2 linked regions of the Homo sapiens genome follow. The protein of the gene in region 1 purifies or fractionates together with the protein of each later gene. This does not show direct contact. Each region holds a gene or a part of one and is shown on either strand. Other genes may lie near its edges.

The links.
Region 2: the proteins of CKMT2 (region 1) and ASB9 purify together in Homo sapiens (co-immunoprecipitation; 2 studies listed by BioGRID and IntAct, with this or other methods). This does not show direct contact.

What each region holds. Positions count from the first base shown.
Region 1 is NC_000005.10:81,225,300-81,238,116, forward strand, and holds the start of CKMT2 (creatine kinase S-type, mitochondrial precursor), read left to right. Parts: upstream 1-8,022; 5' UTR 8,023-8,078; exon of another isoform or gene 8,079-8,082; intron 8,083-12,265; exon of another isoform or gene 12,266-12,817. Other genes in the region: RASGRF2 (ras-specific guanine nucleotide-releasing factor 2), read left to right, coding at 379-471. UniProt on the Homo sapiens protein: Reversibly catalyzes the transfer of phosphate between ATP and various phosphogens (e.g. creatine phosphate).
Region 2 is NC_000023.11:15,250,546-15,262,978, reverse strand, and holds part of ASB9 (ankyrin repeat and SOCS box protein 9), read left to right. Parts: intron 1-4,033; coding exon 4,034-4,113; intron 4,114-8,134; coding exon 8,135-8,242; intron 8,243-10,574; coding exon 10,575-10,725; intron 10,726-12,414; coding exon 12,415-12,433. UniProt on the Homo sapiens protein: Substrate-recognition component of a cullin-5-RING E3 ubiquitin-protein ligase complex (ECS complex, also named CRL5 complex), which mediates the ubiquitination and subsequent proteasomal degradation of target proteins.

The sequences.
Region 1 (12,817 bases):
GAGCTCTCTCCAACCTATCATTAAGAGATGAAAGCAGAATAAAATGTGCACCATGGTGCCAATTTTAGGGGGAAAAATGATTTCTGTAAGTACATGTAATCTCTATAAAGACATAGAAAAACAACTGGGAGAAAACAAACCAATTAGTAACAGTAGTTCCTCTTGAGGGAGGTACCTGGGATTGGGGGTTGAGAGAGGACTAGAGATGTTCACCTTTTTTTTTTTTTTTTTAACAATGGAAACATATTTATGATTTTTTGGTCAAATAAGATTTTTAGTTGTTTAAGAGAAAATGTTGAATTGTGTTAGATTCCGTCAGAAAATGTACGCACTGGTGTCTGAAAGAGGTAAAAGCTGGGACTTCCCCTTTTTTTTCAGGTCGCACAGTACTTGCTTGACAAAGACCTTATCATAGATGAAGATACGCTATATGAGCTGTCACTAAAAATTGAACCTCGACTCCCTGCTTGAAGATCTGGCCTTGCCCCTGAGTCCACGGGATGTTCATGGAAAGCAGGACAGACAGAATTGTGTATGCCTTGCCTATCACGGTACAGCACGAAGCCAGGCTCCTTTCTCCACCAAAGAAGATGGAACCAGACTGGAATTCTGTCTCCAGAGAGAAACCCAGCTGTTTGGGTCAAAGACAGATGCTTCAGACTTGGGTGGGAAGGTGAAAGATGGCTATTTAGAAAGCTGGTGGCACGTTTTACATAAGGGAATGTCAGATGGGAGATGCTAGTTGCCATTTTAACAAAGCAGGTAAATCGGTAAATTTTAAACTCTGTCCATGTTCTGTTAGAACTCAGGGACAAGGATCCATGAAAAAGACCTGTGATGTTTCTCTGGCGCTTTACTGGCCTGGGCACACCTACCAATCTTCTAGGATTTGACTGGTTCCATTACATTTCCTTTTGGTATAAGCTTCACAGAAAAGCTGACACTTCCTCTACAGAGATGGACCAAAACATAAGCAATTTCAGTCTACAGCATGTGCATGGTTGTCAGTGCATTCTAAATATTTCTATGTGAGGAATGGTACCTTCTGAAACTGCCTTTCCAGTCTTTAGGCAATGGGATAGGAAAGAAAGAATGAAACACAAATGGATTTGTATGTAACATTTCCTTAATTAAATGCAGTAGGCTGTGCCCCAGAGGATTCCAGACAGTGGCTGGCTGAGGTGGGTGGGGAGCTTTTCCTTGAGACTGTTGGTCCTAAGAAGCCAGCCCTTTTGGAGAGGCAGCTGCAAAAAGGTGCACGCCCATCTCACCGACAAAACTGTGGAACAGAAGGCCACCAAGTGCTGTGGGGAATCATGGGTTTCAGTGCTGAGTGAAAATCTATACCTAAAAATCATCTCTGCACCTTGCTTTGTTTGTTTTCTTTCCCCACTCATAGTACTGCAGGAATCTATTCTCATTTACACAGACCTTTTTTTAGGCTTACTATGAACATTGGCTGTATTTTTTTTAAACAGTTTAGTGAAATTTTCTTTTCAAAACCCACACTTCCATATGCTGTTCGTAGATCTCTTTCTTTAAAAACTGATGTTGAGAGATCTCTGAGAATATTATAAGTGCATGGGAAATGGGCCCAACCACCGAACAGCTCTTACATTACAAAACCAAATGCAAGGGTTAGTCCTGCTACCTGAGGCTGGGGAAGTGACCTTCCTTTTCCCAAGATTGTCAGTTGTTGAAGAAATAGGGCTATCTCATTGTTTACCTCCCTCTTCTCTTCTCAGGGAGACTGCTGCTTTAAAAGAAGGAAGAGAAAAAATATAGTTCTATTTCCCTGAACCTGTTGCACCTGACATTTTCTCTTAGCAGCATGAAACTTATTGATGCTGACAATGAAAAATGGATCTGTCTGGCTGCTTTCCCTCTTTCCTTGCACTTTAATTATGTTGCTAGAGCTAACAGACTAATAAATTCCACCTGCTGGCTCTTAAGACTCAGTGAAAGAGCTAGCATTGGTAATGCACCATAGAGGTAGAGAATGTACACTTTCTGCACGGTAAGTGCCATCTCTGTATGTAACTATATAGTGAAATATCAACTAAGTAAAAGAAAATATAATATTTGAAGACCATTCCCAAAATATTTTCAATAGTTCATATTAGCCAACAGTGTAGCACTCAACCCAAGGAGGGTTCCTTATGGATGCTTTCTTTTTCTTTTTTAAAGTTGCTTGTTTGTTCTCTTTAGTTTCAAATAAGAGGTTGACGCATCTTGATGCATGATGAGAAGCATGGGCTGTTTGGATCCTAACAACGCATAACTTGTGATTTATTTCTCAGTGCTCCAGAAACTGAGGGTTTGAAATAATATGTATCAGTTGCACCAAACACCTCAAGGTCTTGCAGAAGAAAAGTAAAGGTTAGCTTTCATGGCTCAAAAGCATAGTCCTGAAGGGTGAACTAAAACCGGGACAAATCTGTGAGAGGACCACACACATACTAGTTTCGGGCCAAACAACACGTGGAAAGGTGCATGCATTCTACTCTGCCTTGGAGTTGCCAGAGTCCTTCAGAGGGAAAGGGATGGTTCTGTGTGCACTTTTTCTGGAAGTTCGGACTCATTTCTTTGACCCAAATGTTCCAGAGACACTGCAGCCATTCTTATTAACAAAAAATAAGACAGGAGTTTCCAAATGCTCCTTCCCTTTTGGATCGCAGCTTTTCTTCAACTAGTGACAAAGCTTTTGCGCCTATTTCCTGCAGGATGTTGGAACTGCCCCGCACTGGTCATATTAGGCACTGTCAATTGCTATGCTGACTTTTAGGGGGTTTTTGTTTGTTTGAAAAACAGGGTCTCACCATGTTGCCCAGGCTGGTCTCGAACTCCTGGACTCAAGCAATCTTCCTGCCTCAGCCTCTCAAGCAGCTGGGACTGCAGGGGTGTGCCACTCACTAGCCTTTCGCATTTTTGTTTGAGAATTACACCACTTTCTGGAGTCTGCAGCCTTCCTGGAGCTGCAAGAGGGCAAGAGAGAGAGCTCCACCTCTGAGGGAGTGTCTGTTGATGACCTGCACTATTCGTGTGCCAGCTGGGAGAGGAATGCACATTTTAAAATCCCTTCAATTTGGTCAAATTAAAAATCCCCAAGAGCAATTTGCAGTGTTTTTTCTGGTCGTTAAAGTACCCATCCTCTTCTGCCTACACACAAAGCATGCATTCCCAGCTGCATCTGCCTCTAGTCCATTATGGAGACCCATTTCTAAGAGGAGATGGGAGGTCAACCTCTAACAGCCAAGTAGCGAACATGTATACTGTAAAATTAACCTAGAAAATCAGAAGAAAAATCCAATTTCATGCTTTCGAATGAATGCCCACATTTTGTACTGTCAACGAAATTATCTTGGAGCTTTTAGGGGATGCCTTTTCGTTATTAACTGAGACATCTAGTTTTGCTACAGGGACAAATCTCTTACCTAATCCAATATATTATTTGACAGATTCAGGCATGAAGTAAAACGTCGTCACTTTTCCTTAGTGCTTTTCTGAAGGAATTTAAAGACGGAATTTTAAACGGCCATTGCAATATTTTCAAGTGGCTCTCATACCAAGTCCCATTACTGTTTGTTAAATTTCAGTACGTCTTAAAGTACTACTTATAAACAAATGAAACTCAGAGAAACTGAATCACCTGGAAGAGAAAAATCCATTATGGTCCCATGTGGAGTGAATAATGATGGATCAGCACCCTTTCTCTCATGTTATTGTATAAGACGAGACTTTTGGGCCAGCAGCGATTGGGCAGCTTTTAAATTCTTAACTGAAAAGAGTAATGCAATACAGGGATTATTCCCAATAAAATTAACTTTTATTTAAAAGCAAGAGATTTTACTTAGCTTTTTTTTTTCAAAGTTTGATTTTATCCCCTTGAAAAAAAATCTCTTCACTTTAAAGTATAAAGGTTTTTAAAAATCCAATTGCAAAATGTATTATTTTTACAACTATCGAAAAGGCATAAAAGAGAACATACTATTTATGGCTGAAGGGTATAGCCAGGCTAATGTGCACAGAGGGAATCAATAAATAAAACTCTTTTTCATTTCAGTAAGAAATCAGATTGTAAGTTTAATGGCTCCATTATAGATACCACCGTGTAATAGAAGACTTAAGTCAATGAAATCTAATCAGTGTGTCATTTCTCAGCGGCCATTGGTGACTTAAAATTAAGATGAGGCAGAGCCAAAATGGAAAACAGTCATTTTGTTGTAGGTATAAACACATGAACGATTCAGAAAATTATTCATCTCAGCTGCCATGCAGCATGACATTAACATTAGGATTGATAGCACTAGTCTGATCTGCTCAAGGAAAATAATAGTTCTATTATACTTAATGATGTTGGTTTTTACACAGCTCATTTCATTTTTCACTAGAAAGCCAGTTATGAAAGAGAGCTGGCCTAGGCATCCCGGCCCTGAGTCCTAGGCCCAGTCTCCAACTGGAAAACCTTAGGCTGGTGTTTACACATCCCTGAGCCTCAGTTTCCTCATCTGCAAAACGGTGTGAATAGTAATCCCTGTGCTGCTTATCTCACAGGGCTATTGTGAGGACCAAATGGATTAGACTGTAAACTGCAAAGTGCTGTCCGCACATGAGGTCATCTGATTACTGTCCTCAGATCTCTTTTGTAGAGGATTTCAATGTATTTCTTTATCATTTGAGTGTGTGTGTGATGGACGAATATGTGTGTGAGTTTGAGAAGCATATCGTTCGTGTCCAGTTACTTTGCAAATTTGTGGACATTTGTGATTGGACAGAGGGGTTTGTGCTGTGGCCTAACACTTGCCAAGTGAGGTGTAGGTTATGCCTATATGCAAATTAAACTTCACCTTTCTTGAATATTCAGAAATCTCACTGGTTTCTTCATTTAACTCTTTTTCCCCCCATTTTTCTACATTGTCAACTTAAAACCATGAAATGTATACATTTAGAAAAAATAGAACTTAATTTCTTATAAAGGGTTACAATCTGCAGGCTGGAGCCTCTGGCCAAAGCCAAAAGCAAGCACTTCAGATAAAAAAGGGAGAGGCTGAGATTTATGCCCAACAAGATGAGCCTTACATATACATTTAGTAGGTTATAGGATAATCTTATGAATATTTATGAGAGGCCCTAATGCATGCATAGCCAGTAATCATATATGTTACATGTTACATACAACCCATGTTCACTTTGGGATGGAGACTTAAAATGTAGTAAAATTGGGCTCTATATGTCAAAAGATGGAACACAGGGCACAAAGACGCTTGGTGTGCAATCTCTGTAAACCGGCCAGAACCGGCTGTGGTCTGTGGTCAGTTATGAGGATGGAGTGCTTTGTAAGGCTGAACACTTGTCAGGGGGAAACTGCGTTGAGGGAAGGGGGGGTTCGCCACGTCAGGTTGTCTGTTGAAGTTGAGGAAGAAATCTTCCAGACATAGTTTTTCAGTAACTGGTTTTAGTTTAATTTTAGGAAAGAAAGTCTTGAGGCAGTTATCGAGGTGGGAGAGCGTTGGGTGTGACTGACCTCTTGCCTTGCCAAAGCTGTAGAATCTGGTTTTTAATGTTTCCTGGGGTCTCTTTTTACCACAATGAGTCTGTTTTGTTTTGCTTGGGGGCCTAGGGGCTTTATTTTTATTTTACATCTTCTTCATAGCAGTGAACTCCTTCAGATATATTATTTACTTCTAAATATTACTTCTAAAGTTCAGGGAGAAAAACAGTTTAGAAGAGGCCCTAAAATTCAAAGAATTTGGGGAAAGCTTTGAAATGATACGAAGGATCAACTAATCACACTTTCTTTGCAGTGCTTAGATTCTTCCTGTGACATCCCCAGCCTATATTTGATACCTCCAGGCACAGAGAACTCACTACTACCTGGAACAGCTCAGTCCATTGCACAGCAGCTCAACGCTCCTGAATGGGTGGTGGAGAGAGGAGAAGCCGCCAGGGTAGAGTCCTGGCCTAATAGTCACCAGGCTCCACCTAGGAGGGGCTTCTGAAATAAGACTCCTGTCTACCCCTAAAATAACTGCAGTGGTTATATGGATTACTATATATGAAAATACTTTAACTTCTATGAAGTTGTGGCAACATTTAGAGCTGATGGAATTAAGTTACAGTTGCTGGACACAAGAATAGACTAAGGAAAGGGGTCCCTCCTGCCCAATTCTGAAATGAGCAATCCAGGCTGGTGCGACAGAGGAACCCAGGTTCCTTTCATCCTATTACTTGCTCATCCCACAAGGCGTCATCCTTGCCTTCGAGGTCAAATCTGGGGCCTGCTCTAGCCACACTCCTGCTGGACTCAGGAACAGAAAAGAGAATAAGTCCAGGACATTTTCCTTTAAAGCAAATGATATGGCAGTCGCACACTTCAATTCTGTTCCTGCCCTTATGGCAGAAGCCAGCCACAGGGCAGCCTGGTGTGGCTAGAGCCCCAGAGCTTCAAAAGGAGTTGGTAACGATGAGAAGGGAATAGATGCCATGTGACAGGGATGGCATTTGAAAGATTTCCAGAAAGCCAGAATTTCTACTGTGAGTCCCTTGTAGAGATTTCATCCCCATCACACCACCTTTATAATAAGCTTGAAGAGGACCAGTCCCCCAAAAGAAGGGTGGTACCCTCTTTTCTCAACAATGACCCAATTTTTCTTCTGACCTTACTAACATAAACATTTACTCTATAAAATATAAGGTGTTGAGGTCGGGTGAGTGGAGGGGGCCCTAAATGTTGATTAGGCAATTGGGGAGGAAAAGGAGGTTTTTGCTATAACTGCCATTCTTTAAATCTACAATTCCATGCTCTTTAAAAGCCTTATAATTTTCTGGATCTGGGAGCTGGGCTATTTCAGGGTCAATGGATTTATTTCAGTTGGTGCCTGAACTGACTTGAAACAAGTGTGTGTGGAAAAGAGCTATTTTGAGAAGGAATAAACCGAGACTGCCCTGATGATAGAATATGCAAGCTGGTGGGTCTTGACTCCTTAAAGGATTATGAAATTAATTTGATTGGTCCCAATCTTTATATAACCACCCCAATCAGGAAACTTCCCATCCCGCCAAAAGGCCCCCTCACGTGCTCTCCCTGTCAGTACCCCATGCAAAGGTAAAATAGATGATATTTTTAAACATGGGTCGTGTTTAAAAGAAATGGAAACTCCTTCAGAGAATGAAGGAGAACCACACTGGGTAGAAGGTTATTCCTGGGGCTCCACCCCTTGCTCCATCAAGTCCTCTGAGCATGAGCTGGGCTCTGAGAAGGAAGAGACAGGAACCAATTGGTCATGTCCACGTGGCCTCAGAAGCTGAGTACGTGACGGTCACCAGATGCCTAGGCAGGCTCCCTTGAAATGGCAGGGCTGCTGTCCAAAATCCTGCTGGGTCATTGCTATTTACAGGCAGCCTTCCCGGCGTGCGGTGGATATCCCAAGCGGGGCTATTTTTAAGCAGGGCTATGGCCTGCCGTGGGTTAAGCTGGTGTGGACAGAAAGCGAGATGATCTAGCCATCTACTGCAGGGGGCCTGATCTTGAACAGAAACCTGACTGTAATTGTCCCTGGATCCAGGTCCCAGACAAAGACGCTGGAAGGAGGTCCCTCCAGCCCCTGGCTCAGGGCCCGGTCAGCTGCTGGAGCCAGGCAGCTTGAGACATCCTCCTCTCCGACCTTGGCTTGAGGGGTTCATCCTCCAGAGCTCACCAGGGCCCCAAGGCTGGTACACCTGAGAGAAGAGAGAAACAAATCCCCCAACAGATGTGCAATTTCACCTGCTGGCCCTTCCATTCTGAGATCCAGAGCCCTGGCAAAGGAGCCTCCAGGACCAGGCCTGGGAAGCAAGACTGGCTCCGCCTTTTACGTTTCAGAGAAAGGGCAGGTGCTATAAAGGGCCCAGCGCCCACGGGCCTGCCTTCAAGGGTACAGCTGTGGGGGCCGGTGCGCCCGGAGGTCTACGCTGGGATTGGTGAGGTCCTCTGGCCCCGCCCCGCCAGGGAGGATTTCCAGGCCGGCCCGACCAGCTCGCCCTGCATACACTTCTTGGCTGTGTGCGCTCAGCAGGACGTGGGAGGCTCCGGCTTCAAGGTCGGTGAGTCCGTGAAACTCTGCTTTATTCCTCCAAAGAGGGGTCATGGCTAGAGCCAGTGTGAAGGGCCTTGGAGGAGTGGATGCCGGGCTGTAGACGGGGACCCCGTTAGGACGCTGACTGCGAGGAGGCAATGGTGACTCGCTAAAGCCAGCAGAGCTCCCGCCCTTGGCCGAAGCGACCCCTCCTCCCTGCACACAGGTGGGGGCAGCTCAGCACCAGGAGCAGAACAAATCAGCACGCTGCCTGCAGGGCCTCTTTTTGGTAGTGAATCAGGAATTTTTCTCGATGGAAAAAAAAATCTAAAGGCTGTATTTTGACGCTAAGTTTGGGACAACTTTAAACTTAAAGTGTCTTTCCCTTGTAATTCACAGAGTCTAATCCACTCATTTCTGGGAATGTTTTTCCCCAGCAGTCTCAGTCTCAAAAGACATGTAAATCAGTGACTTGGGATGAACTAACTAGAAAATTAAAATTTTGAGAAGCTATTTGCTCATAAGCCCAATAGCCAGGCCCAGTTTAAACGGGCAAATAGTATTGCTAGAGATTCAGTTTTGCCGTCACTAATACTAACACATTGATAATGAGACAAGTAACCGTCTCCCCTCCCCACCATCCTTACCTTTCCCACCGGAGGTTAATTAAAAAAAAAAAAAAAAAAAAAAAAACCTATGGAATTGGCCCCACGTGTTTCACCTGGGCAGAGGCCTGTTCTTCACTAGCTTGCTTGCTTGGTTGGTTGTCCCGGGGTTAAAATCAGTCCTGTTCTTGCCCCTAGAGTGGTCTGCCTTCAAATGCTCTCCTCCGAATGTGAGGAAGAGTGACATTTGACAAACAGACCAAAACCTTTAGGTCTCCTCAGTGCTGCCCTTTAGACCTTCCAGAAAGTGTTGCCAGGCTCGTGACCCCTCACAGTGTCAGCTGAGTCAAGTGAGGGGCAGTTAGTGGCCCTCAGGACAAGGTTACGCTAGGTACACCAGTGTGCTGTTTCCAGAAGGGCTGCTTTTCCTGTCTACGGCTCTCACATTTTCTCTGTTCTGAACTCGTGTCCTTGGTCTGTTCTCTCTGTCCTCTCATAGAGGCGAGCATGGCCACAGCATGTGGCCAGAGACTTCCTGACAGGCAGGCTCTTCCGGGAGGCTCTTGGCCTTGTTTGGCGGTCTGAGCACTTCACTTCCTCTGCATTGATAGGCACCTTTTCCAAAGACCCCAGACTTTGGAGTTAATCACGCCTGTGGGTTAAGGCACTGTCACAGCAAAGCACAGGAGTGCCACATGCACCCCATGGACTCTGCCAGCCTCATGACCAAATCATATCATTAGGAAATGGGCCATAGGCAGGTCAGTTTTCCTAAGGAAACTGTGGGTTGGGTCGGGGGGAGTACCATACAGAATGGGGAGTCCTGGGGTTTCAGACACAGGAGGGAGACTGACTTTGCCCCTAGCTCAGAGGCCCTGGGCCTCCATCTCTGCCATAGCCTACAGCAGGCTCCATTTGTCTTCCCAAAGGAAGCCACGTAGAGTCTGTGTCAAGCATTCTGGGAGCTCCTGCCCACAGAGCCAGGAATCCAGCAGCAACCCATGCTGAAGGTGACTGCTGGAGGTCACACTAACCCTTGCCAGGAAGCCTCAGAGACTCCCTCCCTTGGGCGGGGAAGAAGGCAGCCCACTTCACAGCACTTCAAAGGACTAGATGGCTCCTAGCTTCCTGTTTTCTTGAAAACAATTTACCCTTGAGGGACAAAGTCTGGTAACGGTCCCATGCCTTCATCACAGGAGGCCTAGGAAAGGCCTCTGTTTTACAGAGTAGGATTCTAAATATCTCCTTCCTGCCTAGGACTGTCTATTTGCTGAGTAGAACAGTAATGCCAAGAGTGCCCATTAAGGTTGGCTGCGTACTAAGTGGTTTTGAGGTAACGCACACCCTTTGCTATCTTAGAACTGGGAGGAGACAGGCATTTTCTGCGGCCTAGGAGCCTGGCATCGTGAGAATTTGTTCAGAGTGTTCTGTGGAGCTGGTCCAAGCCCAAGGACATCCTCTGTTTTGGGGTGGCTCTCTGGATGGAAAGCTGACACGTGGTCCTCCTCCTGCCCTTCCACCTGCCCTCTGGCTGAGGAGTTCAGACACATGGACGCTGTGAATGGCTGGACCAGAAATAAATCTGAGTCAGCAGAAAGGCAGACATGGTCCATCCGGGATGCCCAGGAAGAGCAGGGGGCTCGGGCTGGAGGCAGTGACAGAACCCAAGGCCTCCTCTTCACATTCTAGGATGTCACAGAACCAGAGAAGAGCATTAAGACCAGGATCTGAACTCCCAGTATACCTGCCTGGGACCAAGAAATGTACAGCTTGTGGCCACTTAACAAAAGGGCTTGATGTAGCTGTCGTTGTTTTTTTAATGCGGAGGGCAGTGTAGGAACAAACAGGATATTATTGCTTTTGGCTCTGTCTGGCTGTGCTCTTGCACCTCCCCATCGCTCCAAATCTCCCTGGCTTGGAGCCCAGGTATTCTGCCAATTTTAGCCTAGATGCTGTAAGCAGTGTTTTTCAATTCAGGAGTCATTGTGGTGTTCCAGGTTAGGGAAACTGAGGCAGAAAGCTTCTATGGGGTGAGAGCTGGAGACCACCTTCCTCTTCACACTGGCACAGCATCCCTAGCAAGGCCTGGCAGGCACATTGAGCACTAGAGTCAGAGTGGAGCGGGCAGAGATATCCCTGGCGTCTGGGTTACTTCAGCGGGAGCCTGAGGACAGGGAAAGAGAACAAGTTTATAATCTGCAACTTTAGAAGTCATATGCCCTGAGGTGACAATCCTGTGCCTAGGAGCTGCTGTGTTAAATGCACTTCTACGGTCTTGGGGGTTTGACTGAGTGGAATGATCTGTGGCACCACAGGTTTTAAGCCACAGGGGTGGTTTCCCTCCAATTGCTGGTCAGTGAAGGGCTGTATGTGAGGTGCTGCGGTCTGCAAGGAAGCTGAATCCAGTGCAAAAGACAAACCTGGGTTCAAATCCCAGCTCTACTAGTGTGCTGGCACTGAAACCTGGGGCAGGTCACTTCTCTTGAGCCTCTGTTTCCCCATGCCCAAAATAAAGCATACTTGGCAGGATTGTTACATAGACTGATTGTGTTTGTAAGGTCCCTTACATAATGCATGGCTCATGATAGGAGCTCATAAATGCTCAAAAAGAAGACAGAAGGTTTGACTCAGTCGGTGTATAGGGTTGGAAAGGATATTCCAGGGGAAAGAAAACACTCAAGCAAAGGCTCAGAGGTGGCAAAGTGAAGGACCTGTTCAGTGATGCCAGGAAGTCATTGGAGACACTGTTGGAGGGGTGGAGTCTGGAAGAAGAACTGGGGAGCCCAATTGGTTAAATCCATTTTGTGAACCCCGATGTTGGTTTTCAGAGGATGATCAGTAGATCTGAAAGTATGTGATAGACACCTTTGAAGTCTTGTCCGCAGAGATAGAAAATACAAATTAAAAGAAGGCAGCTGTGGTGGTTCACACCTCTAATCCCAGCACTTTGGGAGGCTGAGGCAGGTGGATCACTTGAGGTCAGGAGTTCGAGACCAGCCCGGCCAACATGGCAAAATCCCATCTCTACTAAAAGTACAAAATTAGCCACATGTGGTGGTGGGCGCCTGTAATCCCAGCTACTTGGGAGGCTGAGGCAGGAGAATTGCTTGAACCCAGGAGGTGGAGACTGCAGTGAGCTGAGATCGCACCACTGCACTCCAGCCTGGGTGACAGAGCGAGACTCTTTCTCAAATTAAATGAAACATTTAAATGCGAAAAATGTAAGTTAAAATCAAAAAGCATTCAGAAAAGGGGCAGGCCGAGTGCTGGCTGGAATAATCAGGTGTGGCTTTGGGGAGGGAGTGATGATGATCCCATAGCCTTAGGGTCATCAGGGGAAGGGACTCATTTATTCAGTGCCTACTGCAGCCTGTCCCGTCGTCTTCACAACACCTCACAGGGAGACCTCATCATGCCCATGATGGGGAGGAGCTGCTGAGGCTCGGGTGGGTACCAAGCAGGGTTCCTACACCTAGCGGGGCTTGGTAACATCCTGTAATCGGGGAGCTTTTTCTCATTATACATGTGAGGGCCCCACTCTTGGAGAGACTCATTCAAAAAAGGTGGAGCCTAGAAATCCAAAATTTTAACACACATCAAAATTTTCTTTTTTAGGTTTTTACTTTTTTATCATAAAGATAACACATGCTTATTTTTACAAGTGATACAATACAGAGTTCCATTAAGAGAAAATTAATCTGCCTTCTCCGAGTCCGTTACTCTGAAGCAACCCTTTTAGCAGTTTGATGAATATCCTTCAATACTTTTATGTTCATACAAATACATGAAAATGTATATGTATATATACATCATTGTTACAAATTGCAACCGCTCATATTCAGTCCTAAGCAAGTTTTTCTTTTCCTTTTAACCTAAAAAGGTGTCACAGATGGGCCTCCAGGTAAGTGGAGGCAGTTTTAACTCCTTTAATAGCTGCAGAATATTTCACCATCTGAATGCACCAGCATTTGTTGAGTGGCAGTGCTGGGCTTCTCAAACTATCTGTGGCAAAATCTCTTATTAATTTCTAATCCATAGCAGACTCACACATTTGTAAAATATGATAAAGTGCAACTATTAGAAAAAGAGAATAAGGCTGGGCGTGGTGGCTCACACCTGTAATCCCAGCATTTTGGGAGGCCAAGGCGGGCAGATCAC
Region 2 (12,433 bases), on another chromosome or scaffold:
CATACACACAATCTATGCTCTCTGAATGTTAGAAAAATGTTAAACTAGGCCAGGCGCAGTGGCTCATGCCTATAATCCCAGCACTTTGGGAGGCTGAGGCGCATGGATCACTTGAGGTCAGGAGTTGGAGACCAGCCTGGCCAACATGGTGAAATCCTGTCTCTACTAAAGTTACAAAAATTAACTGAGTGTGATGGTGTGCACCTGTAGTCCCAGTTACTTGAGAGGCTGAGGCAGGAGAACCACTTGAACCCAGGAGGTGGAGGTTGCAGTGAGCCAAGATTGCCCCACTGTACTCCAGCCTGGGTGACAGAATGAGACTCCGTCTCAAAAAACCAACAGAACATTACACACAAAGAAAAATGTTAAATTATTAATTGTCACTACTGTAAATTTTCACATAATCACTCATTTGTTCTGATACCTGCTGAGGTCAAAGTCCTTGTATAAATTTGAGATGGATTTTAGTTTTACAGGGACTCACGTTTTTCTTCTGGGCAGGAGCATAGGCATACTGTGACAGGCTTAACAAACCCTGAACTGAAATGACTTTATGTTAGAAGGGGAAGCCTCATATCCTGCTGATGGGAACATACAGTAGGGCAGCCACTTTGGAAAACAGTCTCAAAATAAACATTGTGTTACCATATCATACAGCAATTCTTTTAGGTGCATATTCAGGAGAATTGAAAACATATATCTGCTCAAAAACTTGTATATGAATGTTTATAGCAGCATTATTCATAATAGGCAAGAAGTAGAAATGACACAAATTTTTATCAGCTGATGAATGAATACATAAAATGTGGCTTATCCATACAATGGAATTATTTGGCCAAAAAAAAAAAAAAAAGGAATGAAGTACTGATGCACGCTACAACATGGATGAAACTTTGAAACATGCTAAATAAAAGAAGCCAGTTGCAAAGTACCACATACTGTATGGTTTCATTTATATGAAATGTCCAGAATAGGCAAATCCATAGAGACAGAAAGTAGATCCATGGCTGCCAGGGGCTGAGGGAAGTAGAACTGTGGAGTGACTGCTAATGGGCACAGAGTTTCTTTTTGGGGTGATGAAAATGTTCTAAAATTGATTGTGGTGTTGGTTGCATAGCTCTGAATATACTGAAAACTGCTGAATTGTACACATTAAATGGGTGTATTGTATGGTATGTGAATTATATCTCAATACAGCTGCTTGCTAGCTAGCTAGCTAGAGATATTCACATTGTCAGCCCCTCACTACGTGTACCAGGACAACACTCTGTACTTCTCAAAGACACAAGCTGTCTCTGCTCTGTAAACACTACATTCTGCAGAGGTGCAAATTCAGATAGCCTTGTTATTCTCTTGGAGAAGTACGTACTTCTTTATTTGCCCCAAATAGAAAGAGTAATGGTCCCATGATGAATGAGCAGAAAGTAAGACCATTTGTGGCTACACTTGATAAATGCGTCATTTTTATGAAATCTGGACAGTTACAAATTAGGATGCAATCTACCTGCCTGGACTGTTTAGCCTGTCGACAATAATAATCTTAGGGAGCTCTAAGAGAGGTTGGGGAATGTGGCAGCTGTATTTCTTAGCAGCTGAGCACTTGGAAAAAAAAGTGGATTAATCATCATACATATGGTGATCCATCAAGATACATTTGCAAATCTATTGAAAACTGATTTTCAAAACCTTTCTCAATTTGTGGCTCTTTGTTCTCATTCAAGATTTTGTGTGAATGGTATTTGGCATTATCAGCACCAACAGGGTGGAATTAGTTGTCCTTTTAATTCTAATTTGGAGATCAATCTTTCCATGTCTGCAGTCCGAATTTTAGCTTCCAAGCCCTAGAATCAGCAGTATTATTCCAGAAATAATTAGGAGCCTCAGAGAATGCCGTGAGGACATTGAGTATCTATTAAGCGTGAGGTTTTGACGGTACGAAAAGCCATTTCACTTAAGATGTACCTTGTCTCAAGCACCTTTAGTGACCCCAGAAGGAAAGCATTGGATGGGCGGTATGTAGATGGGCTCATTTGTCTTCCTTTTATGTACTAAATGCTTAATGAATCCATCTGGAAGAATGGTAATTTGCTTACTAATACAGATTTTCCAGGGCACTGATGGCTTCAGGTGGCAGACAGACGGGCCTCATGTGTTAAGTACAAAGTGTTAAGCCAACATGTGTTAAATACAAAGGATACTTCATAGCCTTTCAGTTTGCAAGGTATAGATAGTTAAGTATCCTCCTTCTCCAGGTCTTCTCAGTTTTTAGGAGCTATTAGCTTCCGTGCAAGGCATAACTGGCACCAGACCTTTCTACCTTGTTTGTATGTAGTGTGTTTGGCGAAGCAGGTGGAGCTGGAGCTGAAGCAGGTTCAGGCACGCCTCCCTCACATTTCTACTGGAAATCAGATGAAGCTTGAGATGAGAAAAAAATCAGATCTATGCCTCATTCAGTTATATTCAATTAAGAGAGAGGAAAGCATTTAATGGGTTGGGATTGGGTTTTCAGGCTTCTTTCCTAAGAATTTGTTTTCCTTCTATGTGGTTGTAGAATAAATTTGCTATTTTATTTTATTTTTTTGAGACAGAGTCTCACTGTGTCACCCAGGCTGGAGTGCAGTGGCATGATCTCGGCTCACTGCAACCTCCGCCTCCCGGGTTCAACCGATTCTCCCGCCTCAGCCTCCCGACTAGCTGGGATTATAGGCGTGAGCCACCACACCCAGCTAATTTTTACATTTTTACTAGAGATGGTGTTTCACCATGTTGCAAGGCTGGTCTCGAACTCCTGACCTCAGGTGATCTGCCCACCTCGGCCTCTCAAAGTGCTGGGATTGCAGGTGTGAGCCACCACGCCTGGTGTAAATTTGCTATTTTAAATAGCAATGATGATGAGGTATAATTAAGACTCTCTGTTTAGTGTTAGGGCAGGATAATAATAGTAGCTAGTATGTGTTGAGCCATGGTAAGTACAGGTTGAGCATCCCGTCTCTGAAATCCTTGGGACCAGAAGTGTTTCCAGTTTTTTCAGATGTTGGAATATTTGCATATACATAATGACTTATCTTGTGGATGGTACTCAAGTCTAAACACGAAATGCATTTATGTTTTATATACACCTTACACACATAACCTGAGATAATTTTATATAATATTTTAAATAAGTTTGTGCATGAAACAACGTTTTGACTGCAACCCATCACATGTCAGATGTGGAATTTTCCACTTGTGGCATCATGTTAGCACTCAAGAAGCTTTGGATTTTGGAGCATTTTGGATTTGGGAGTTTTGGGTTAAGGATGCTCAACCTGTATGTTATATATTAGGGCTGCTCAACTTGTAACTTTACAGAGAAGGAAACTGCGGCACTGGGCCTTTCCCGGGACCCACAGGTCAGAAAAGGTGAAGCGGGTCTGAATTAAGAGCTTTCTTTAACCACCTTGGCATGCTGCCTTTGAGGGTAAATAATGTCCCTGTTTCAAGGTGAGACTGAACACTGATTTGTGCTTAATATTAGGACAGGAGATAATCTATAAATAGATATGGTTCTGTTTAGATTTGATTCCAAACCTAATGGTGTATGTAATTACATGATTACTACTATTAATACAGAACACTGTTTGGTGAGATGCCAAAGTCTGTATTTCATGCAGGAAACTAGACTGACAGCTACAGCTTAACACACTAATGTTGGTAATTAGTGAAGCTCTCGCTTAACTAAATGGGCCATTTGCCTTTGAAACCAGTGTGTAAATAGAAATAGAGTAATCTGTCATCCCAATCCACCTCTTTTGTCCTTAGTTTGAGGACTGGCTGTAGTTCTTTCCCAAGCTATCCAGACATTTCAAACAAACTGTGCACAAAAAATATTAATAAAGAAGAGAAATGCTGAATTCCTGATGGGAATTTTGGTTGAGTGAATCCAATGTCTCCCTCCATCCAGGGCCTGTTAGGCTCTTATTGATGGGCAAGGATAAGCCTCTGGGTCTAAGTGCATTAGCAGGATATAACCCATTCCCCTCTTTCCATACAGATGCTGTGTCTGATTGGTCTCCTATGCATGAAGCTGCAATCCACGGACATCAGCTGTCTCTGAGGAACCTCATCAGCCAGGTAGCTTTTTGAAAATACAATACAGAAGAAACCTATCAAAATATTAAAACAAATGTGTGACATAATAACATAGGGACTTTTAAATTAATTCATTAAATAGAAGACCTAGTGGTGATTCTAGTAACTACCATAACGTCTAAATAGGATGAGTATAGATTTTGAGATATTTTAGATGTCTACAGCAATTGTAATACAATAGAAAATATCTGTAATTTCTATTGGAGATAACCCTACATAATACTATTACTACTGTGGTTTGTTGTCTACATTCTGAACTGAAGGAAATGCTAAATTTCAGATAGAGCTGAGTGAGAATAAATGTGCTTTAAAAAATCCAATTTCATAGACCTATCTAGAGTAAGAAGTCCTCCTATAAGAAAATAATTTCTAAAGAAAAATTTCATACTATCCTAAGCCACTATCTTAAGCCATTTTTGGTAGCAGCAGTCTATTATAAATAGATTATAACACTAATTCTAGCTAAAAGAAGTTAGGCTACTTCTCAGATAAAATTAGAAATTTACCCTATTTTGATAGCATGAAAAATGATCACTGCAGCTTTTATATATCACTTCTTAAATTGGACAGATACTCATTTACATTCAGTATTTATGTGTTTATGAAACATCAGCCAGAACCATATCTCCAAGTTCTATCACATTATTTGTGTAAGATGTCTTTTTAGAGCCCCGGTTTCTGCTTTCATAAAATGAGTATTCTAATACCTACCTAGGTCAGTCCACCCCATAACTCAATAACAAACCATCCCAAAACTCAGTGACATGATACAGTAACCATTATTTCTTGCTGATGTGTGTTTGTGTCAGTTCATCTAGGCTGGGCTTGGCTGGGCTTGGCTCCCAGCTGTGGGTTGGGTGTAGCCCTGCTGCACATCTCTTTCATCCTGCTTGGACCACTGGCTACCTGAGGAATTATTTTTTCTTGGCAAAACGCTGGAGCACAGCAGGACAAGCCCCACCATGCAAGAATACTTCCAATCTGTTCATGTCACATCTGCTAACATCCCACTGGTCAAGTCACATGACCACATCCAAAGTCAAGGCTCAAGAGAAGTACATTTTGTCAACTAAGCGTAGTTGACGACTGAAAATAGATATATTAAAGTTAAGCCATTCAATCTTTTTTTAAAAACTAAGAACTGACTGTGGACTGAACACTGTGAAGTAATGGGTTAATTACCTTATGATTTTATATGACTCAGACTTGTTAATAATTTAGACAAATCACAGTTAATTTAAGGTAGAACTGTAGCTTGATGATGAACTACAAATGAGTTTCTAACTTTACAGAAGGAACCTCTCTGCAATGTGAATATGTGGTGAAAACTTTTTGTGTTACGAATAGCTGTGTTGTTGTATTTCATTTACGTGGATTTATGTATAAACACCTAAATGCTGGTTTTATTTTTATCATTATTATTATTATTATTATTATTTTTTTGAGATGGAGTTTCACTCTTGTTGCCATCTGGAGTGCAGTGGCGCGATCTCGGCTCACTGCAACCTCCGCCTCCTGGGTTGAAGCAATTCTGCCTCAGCCTCCCGAGTAGCTGGGACTACAGGCATGTGCCACCACGCCCCGCTAATTTTATATTTTTAGTAGAGACGAGGTTTCACCATGTTGGTCAGGCTGGTCTCAAACTGCTGACCTCAGATAATCCATCAGCCTTAGCCTCCCAAAGTGCTGGGATTATAGGCATGAGCCACCGTGCCTGGTCTAAATGCCGGTTTTACAATGGCAGTTGTGCCTGGAGGAGTATGCACATTTTCCTATTGGTTGTTTTTATGGTTGCCTTTTGCCCAAGTTCTGTACCTCGGCCTGCCTTCCCCCAACTTGTGTCTGATACACTTGCATGATTTTTGCTTCATGTGACAATCATACCCCTCTTGTGGCATTGACAAAGCTACTTTCTATAAGTGTGATGACTGTGAGAAAATAAGATATTTTCTCCTGCCAATTGGACATTTAAGTCTTAGGTATGAATAGTAAAGTAAGAAATGACATATTCTTTTCTTTGATCACGACAAAAGTTGGCACATTTTTTTCTTTCTTTTTTTTTTTTTTTTTTTGAGACGGAGTCTTGCTGTCGCCCAGGCTGGAGTGCAGTGGCGCCATCTCGGCTCACTGCAGGCTCCGCCCCCTGGGGTTCACGCCATTCTCCTGCCTCAGCCTCCCGAGTAGCTGGGACTACAGGTGTCCCCCACCTCGCCCGGCTAATTTTTTGTATTTTTAGTAGAGATGGGGTTTCACCGTGTTAGCCAGGATGGTCTCGATCTCCTGACCTCGTGATCCGCCTGCCTCGGCCTCCCAAAGTGCTGGGATTACAGGCGTGAGCCACTGCACCCGGCCAAGAGTTGGCAAATTTTTTTCAGTAAAGGACCAGATAGTAAATATTTTAGGCTGGGAGGCTGAGGCAGGAGAGTGGCGTGAACCCAGGAGGTGGAGCTTGCAGTGACCCGAGATCGCGCCACTGCACTCCAGCCTCGGCGACAGAGCAAGACATCGTCTCAAAAAAAAAAAAAAAAAAAAAAAAGAATCTTAGGCCTTGCGAACCATGCAGTCTCTGTTGGAAGTACCTAACTCTGCTGTTTAGCAGAAAAGCAGTTGTAGACAATATGTAAATGAATGGGCATGGCTGTGTTCTGATAAAACTTTGCTTATGGATGCTGAAATTTGAATTTCATAAAATTTTCACGTGTCACAAAATATTCCTTTGATTTCTTTTAAACCATTAAAAATGTAGAAACCATTCCTAGCTACAGAAGCAGGTGTAGGCTAGATTTGACTCTGTAGGCTACTGTTTGTTGACCCCCTTGTCAAAACTATGATAGAGCTAGGAAATCTAAGAAAAACAATTAAATGTCAGGAAAAGGAGGGTTTTTTTGAGAAAAAAAATTGGGTGAAACTGATATTTTTATTACAAATATTATTAAATCCTGTGTGTTACTAAATACTTATGTTTAAAGAGCAATTATATTAGTTAATAGGTACATTTCAATTTCCTAAAATAAGAAAGTACATTTAGGCTTCCTAAAAGGTACATGCAGCAGTCTATTTCTTTTCCCTCGCAGTTTGAAAATTTCCTTTTAATTGTCTCACAAGGTAGAGCCACTTGTGAATATGTTAAAACTTAATAATTGCTTGTTAAAACTTAGCAATTTGGGCCACGCTGACTTTAAAAAAATTGAGAAATTTCATAAGCATGAAAGAACTTAAACACGTGTGCAGTTGAATAAAAAGTGATGATGATGAGAATATTGCCATGTGACTGCCTCCCCAGGTCAGGAAATGGAAAAATAGCACAATGCTGGCTCCTCCAAAGACTCACCCATCCCTCCCCTTATTGTGCTTTCTAGAACACAATCCTGTCCCTCTTCCACAGGAGTAACCATTATCCCGATTTCCTTGTTTTCTTTATGGTTTTACTCTATATATTATGTCTTCTGAAACAATATGGGGTAGTTTTGCCTAATTTTGAACTTTAAATTGATGTAATCATTCAGTGTGTATGCTTTTGGATTTTGCTTCTTTTGCTCAACATTATTTTTGCAAGCATCACCCTTGTAGTGCTTGCCATTATGATTTGTTGGGTGTAATCTTTCTGCTGAAAGATTATACCAAAGTTAATTAATTCAGTCCATTGTTGATGGACATTTGGTTTGTTTGCAGTTTTTGACTATTATGACCAATGCTGTTGTGAATATTCTTGTATATTTATCTAGATGTATATATACCTAAGAGTCAAATTGCTGAGTCATAGGCATATGCATTGTCAGCTCTAATAGATACAGTCAAACTGTTTTCCTGAGTGGTTATACCATACCACACTCCCACCAGTAGTGTGGCATTTTTTTTTTTTTAAAGTCAATATAAACACCTTAGTGTAACATCTGACTTTGAGCCAGGTCAGCTTTGTCATAGTACTGGAATGGTGGCTGAAAAGCAGCCCCAGGGCACTGTTGCTTTGCACCCCTTACTCTGACTGTTTCCCCTCCTTCAGGGGTGGGCTGTGAACATCATCACGGCAGATCATGTTTCCCCACTCCATGAAGCCTGTCTTGGAGGTCATCTCTCTTGTGTGAAGATTTTATTAAAGCATGGAGCTCAGGTAAGGGCAGCTGAAACAACATCTTAGAAACCAAGAATGAAAAATGACTATGTATATCCCTTCTGAATAACTTCCAGCACTTTTGATTAGACTGATTTGAAATATGAAGACAGTTGTTTTTCAAGAAAATTATGTTCATCAGGCTTGTTTGCTTTAGTGATGGATGGATGAAATACTAAATTTTTAGTCACGCTTACAGTCTATATCATTTTCTTTATCATACACTACTAATAAATAGTTATTAGACTTCTGTCTTCATTGTTATGGCCGGAAGGTAATGAAATATTGTGGAAAGCACACATTTGCCTGGGATGGCTAGGATGTCTGAGGAGACAGAAAATCTATGTGGTCATTCATCCTTTAGCTGGCAACCTGGACTTGTTCACATGGTAGCAGGGATTGCAAGAGCAGCAAAAATGGACCTGTTTTGTGTTAGGCAACTGAATGGTGGGTTGGGGAAAATTATGGGCTTGCTATCTTCTGGCAACAGCAAATGCAAAGTCCCAGAAATGATAGTGAGCAATTTTTATATCTTGAAGTCATTCCTTACGGCAGGACAGTAGAGTAGGTGAGAGGGTTCAGAACATAAGCAACCTTGTCCATGCCAAAAAAAGAATGGGCTTTGTCCTGAGATCAGTAAAGAGCCAGAGGTGAGTGCACTGCCAGATTTATATTTGGGTTAAGAAAACATTCAAAACTTGGAAACAGGGAACGTGTCAAGGTGAAGCAAGAGACACCTAGGGTACAAACTTGAAAGAAGTGCTCGCTCTCAGGGTCCTGCACTATTTGTGTGACTCCAAAAATGAATATGTCCTTAAATTTTTTACCCTGGGCAACTTTTATGTCTCACTCTGGTCCTGGCCCTGCTTGGAAGTAGAGTTTGAGAAGGAATTCGTTGTCTTCACAATATCATTGCTTAAAAGATTCACCAGATAATCATTTAATGATATACAAGAATGTGTCTGCACTTGGCTTTTCTATTCACTATTTAATTATAGCCCAAACACTGTGAAGTTAGACATTAACTTCGAAATTTCTGTCTGATTTCCAACATTAGAAAAGATAGCCTCAAAGATTATACTTTTATGGCCCTATAGGACATTAACCAGTTTTTATGTTTTTATTTTTTTAATTTTTGAGATGGAGTCTCGCTCTGTCGCCCAGGCTGGAGTACAGTGGCACGAACTCAGCTCCCTGCAACCTCCGCCTCCTGGGTTCGAGTGATACTCCTGCCTCAGCCTCCTGAGTAGCTGGGATTATAGGCACGCACCACCACACTTGGCTCATTTTTGTATTTTTAGTAGAGATGGGGTTTCATCATGTTATCATGTTGCCCAGGTTGGTCTCGAACTTCCGACCTCAGGTGACCCGCCCACCTTGGTCTCCCAAAGTGCTGGGATTACAGGTGTGAGCCACCGTGCCCGGCGGAGTTTTGTATCTATTAGCAAATATATTTCAGCAGTCCATTGACTATATACGTTTTTCTTTTTTCTTTCTTTTTTTGAGACAGAGTCTCACTCTGTCGCCCAGGCTGGAGTGCAGTGGCGTGATCTCGGTTCACTGCAACCTCTGCCTCCCGGGTTCAAGTAATTCTCCTGCCTCAGCCTCCCGAGTAGCTGGGACTACAGGCGCATGCTACCATGCTGGGCTAATTTTTTGTATCTTAGTAGAGACCGGGTTTCACCATGTTGCCCAGGCTGGTCTCGAACTCCTGAGCTCAGGCAATCCGCCTGCCTCGGCCTCCCAAAGTGCTGGGATTATAGGCGTGAGCCACTGCGCCTGGCCAAATGTTTTTTTGAGCCAGCCTTACCATCTTACTGGTTCCCTCATTAATGAGTGAGTTGAATAAAATCTTGGGTATGTGTTAATTCTATATTTGTATGAAAGTCAAGTTTTTTAAAGTTTTCTAAATTATACTTTAAGAATATACTAAATTACACAGCTAATAATTTCAACAATTTCCTCACAGCAGCAAGAGTAATCTTCTTGCACCCGTTAAGAAATTGAATTGGTGTGGGATGGGTCTAGGAAAGAAGTTTAAAATAGGGATTAGTTTGTAAGCGATTGAAATTATCCTAACTAGTTTCAAAGTTCATGTTCCTGGGGAGGGCATGGAGGAGATAGAACATTGAGTAACATTTTCGATGCTTTATAGCCACTCCCTAATTCCATTTTTCACAAAAACCTGTGGAATTTCGTAGTTATTTCTCCATTTTATAGCTGAGGAATTTAAGGCTCAGAGATGTTAAATAACATCTTCAGAGTGGTGGACCCCACATTTGAACCCAAAACATCCCCCTTCCTGTCTTCATTCTGGAGCTTCTTTTACCAGGTGAATGGTGTGACAGCAGACTGGCACACTCCACTGTTTAATGCTTGTGTCAGCGGCAGCTGGGATTGTGTGAATTTGCTTCTGCAGCACGGAGCCAGCGTTCAACCTGAGAGTGATCTGGCATCCCCCATCCATGAAGCTGCTAGGAGAGGTAAATCTGTTGAGAATTTTTTTTTCTACCCACTCCTTCAAGGGACATCTTACTGCTGAAAGAAAGAAAGAAAAGGAGATATATTTTAGAGCAGTAGTTCTCAAAATGGAGTCCCAGGACTGGAAGCATCAGCATGACCTGGCCTGCAAATGCAGATTCTTCGGCCTCACTCCAGCCCCATTGAATCAGTAACTGGGGATGGGGCTCAGCCCTCTGTATTTTGTTTAATAAGCCCTCCAGCTGCTTTCTGGTACACAGTAAGTTTGAGTGCCTCCCTTTTAGAGCATTTTGAATGTTTTTCACTGCTGTATTACTGAAACAGGGCTTGGCACATAGTAGACTATCCATCAATATTTGTGGAATCCGTTGTTATACCCGTGACCTTATAGAAATCAAGTTATTTCATAAAACAAATTATATTCTTCTATTTCAGGGCCTTAAAGAACATTGTCTCAGTGACACTTAAGTTTGCCAAATGAAATAAGCTTTCAATTTTTGAAAGTATTTGATGTTGCATACAGTTTGGGATAATTCTTTTCATTAAAGCCATAATTTTTCTGATAGTCTTAGCTCATAAAATCACAAGTTTTTATTTTCTCCAATATTTAGCATCATCGTAATGACCATACCTTGCCAGAGGGCTTTCTGTTTCTCCAGTGGCTTTCATAGAATGGCTTCCCATTTGACTGGACCAACCCACTCATAATGATCTCCCAAAGCATTAATATTATTTATTGAGAACATCTTAACTCATCATATTCGCTGCATACATAGAACTAAAATACAGCAAGAGAAACGTAGAGGAGCAATGTCAAAAATATGACATCCTGGACCAAGGAAGTGTGATTCAGCTTTCACCTAGTTTTTCAGATTGGGCCCTGCTCATGTTGGATTTGGCAGTTTCTTCTAAGCATTGCCTATACCCGCTGTGGCCTGTTCCTCCCGGGCCTGCCTTTGGAGAGGTTGTAAGTTTCCTTCCCTGTCCCGTGGCCCACACTGTGCCCTTTATTCTTCAGTTCCACCTTCAGGTCCTGTTCCTCCATATCTCTCCCAAGCTCTCACTTCAATTTCTGTACTTAGACAAACTACAAAGCCACAGACAATTGAAAAAGGTGGATAGTTGCTGGTTGGTTACCGTGGCTAGTAAACTCAAATGGAGTTTCACCCGTAGTTGCAGATTGCATCCTATGGTCAAACCATTAACTGATAGCAGTGGTTAAAATCACTCCTGATTTGGCCGGGCCTGGTCTCACGCCTGTAATCCCAGCATTTTGGGAGGCTGAGGCGGGCGGACCACGAGGTCAGGAGATTGAGACCATCCTGGCTAACACGGTGAAACCCCATCTCTACTAAAAATACAAAAAAGTTAGCAGGGTGTGGTGGCGGGCGCCTGTAGTACCAGCTACTCGGAGGCTGAGGCAGGAGAATGGCGTGAACCCAGGAGGCGGAGCTTGCAGTAAGCCGAGATTGCGCCACTGCACTCCAGCCTGGGGGACAGAGCGAGACTCCGTTTCTAAAATAAAATAAAATGAAATAAAATAAAATCACTCCTGATTCTAATTGAAGGAAATAGCTTTTTGGTCCCCTGGATAAGCTGCTGCCAAATTTAATGCAAAATGGGGATGGCAATGTCTTTCTAGCTAAGGGAACTTGTATTGTAACTGTTTTTCTTCCTGCTTTGGGCTGCAGGCCACGTGGAGTGTGTCAA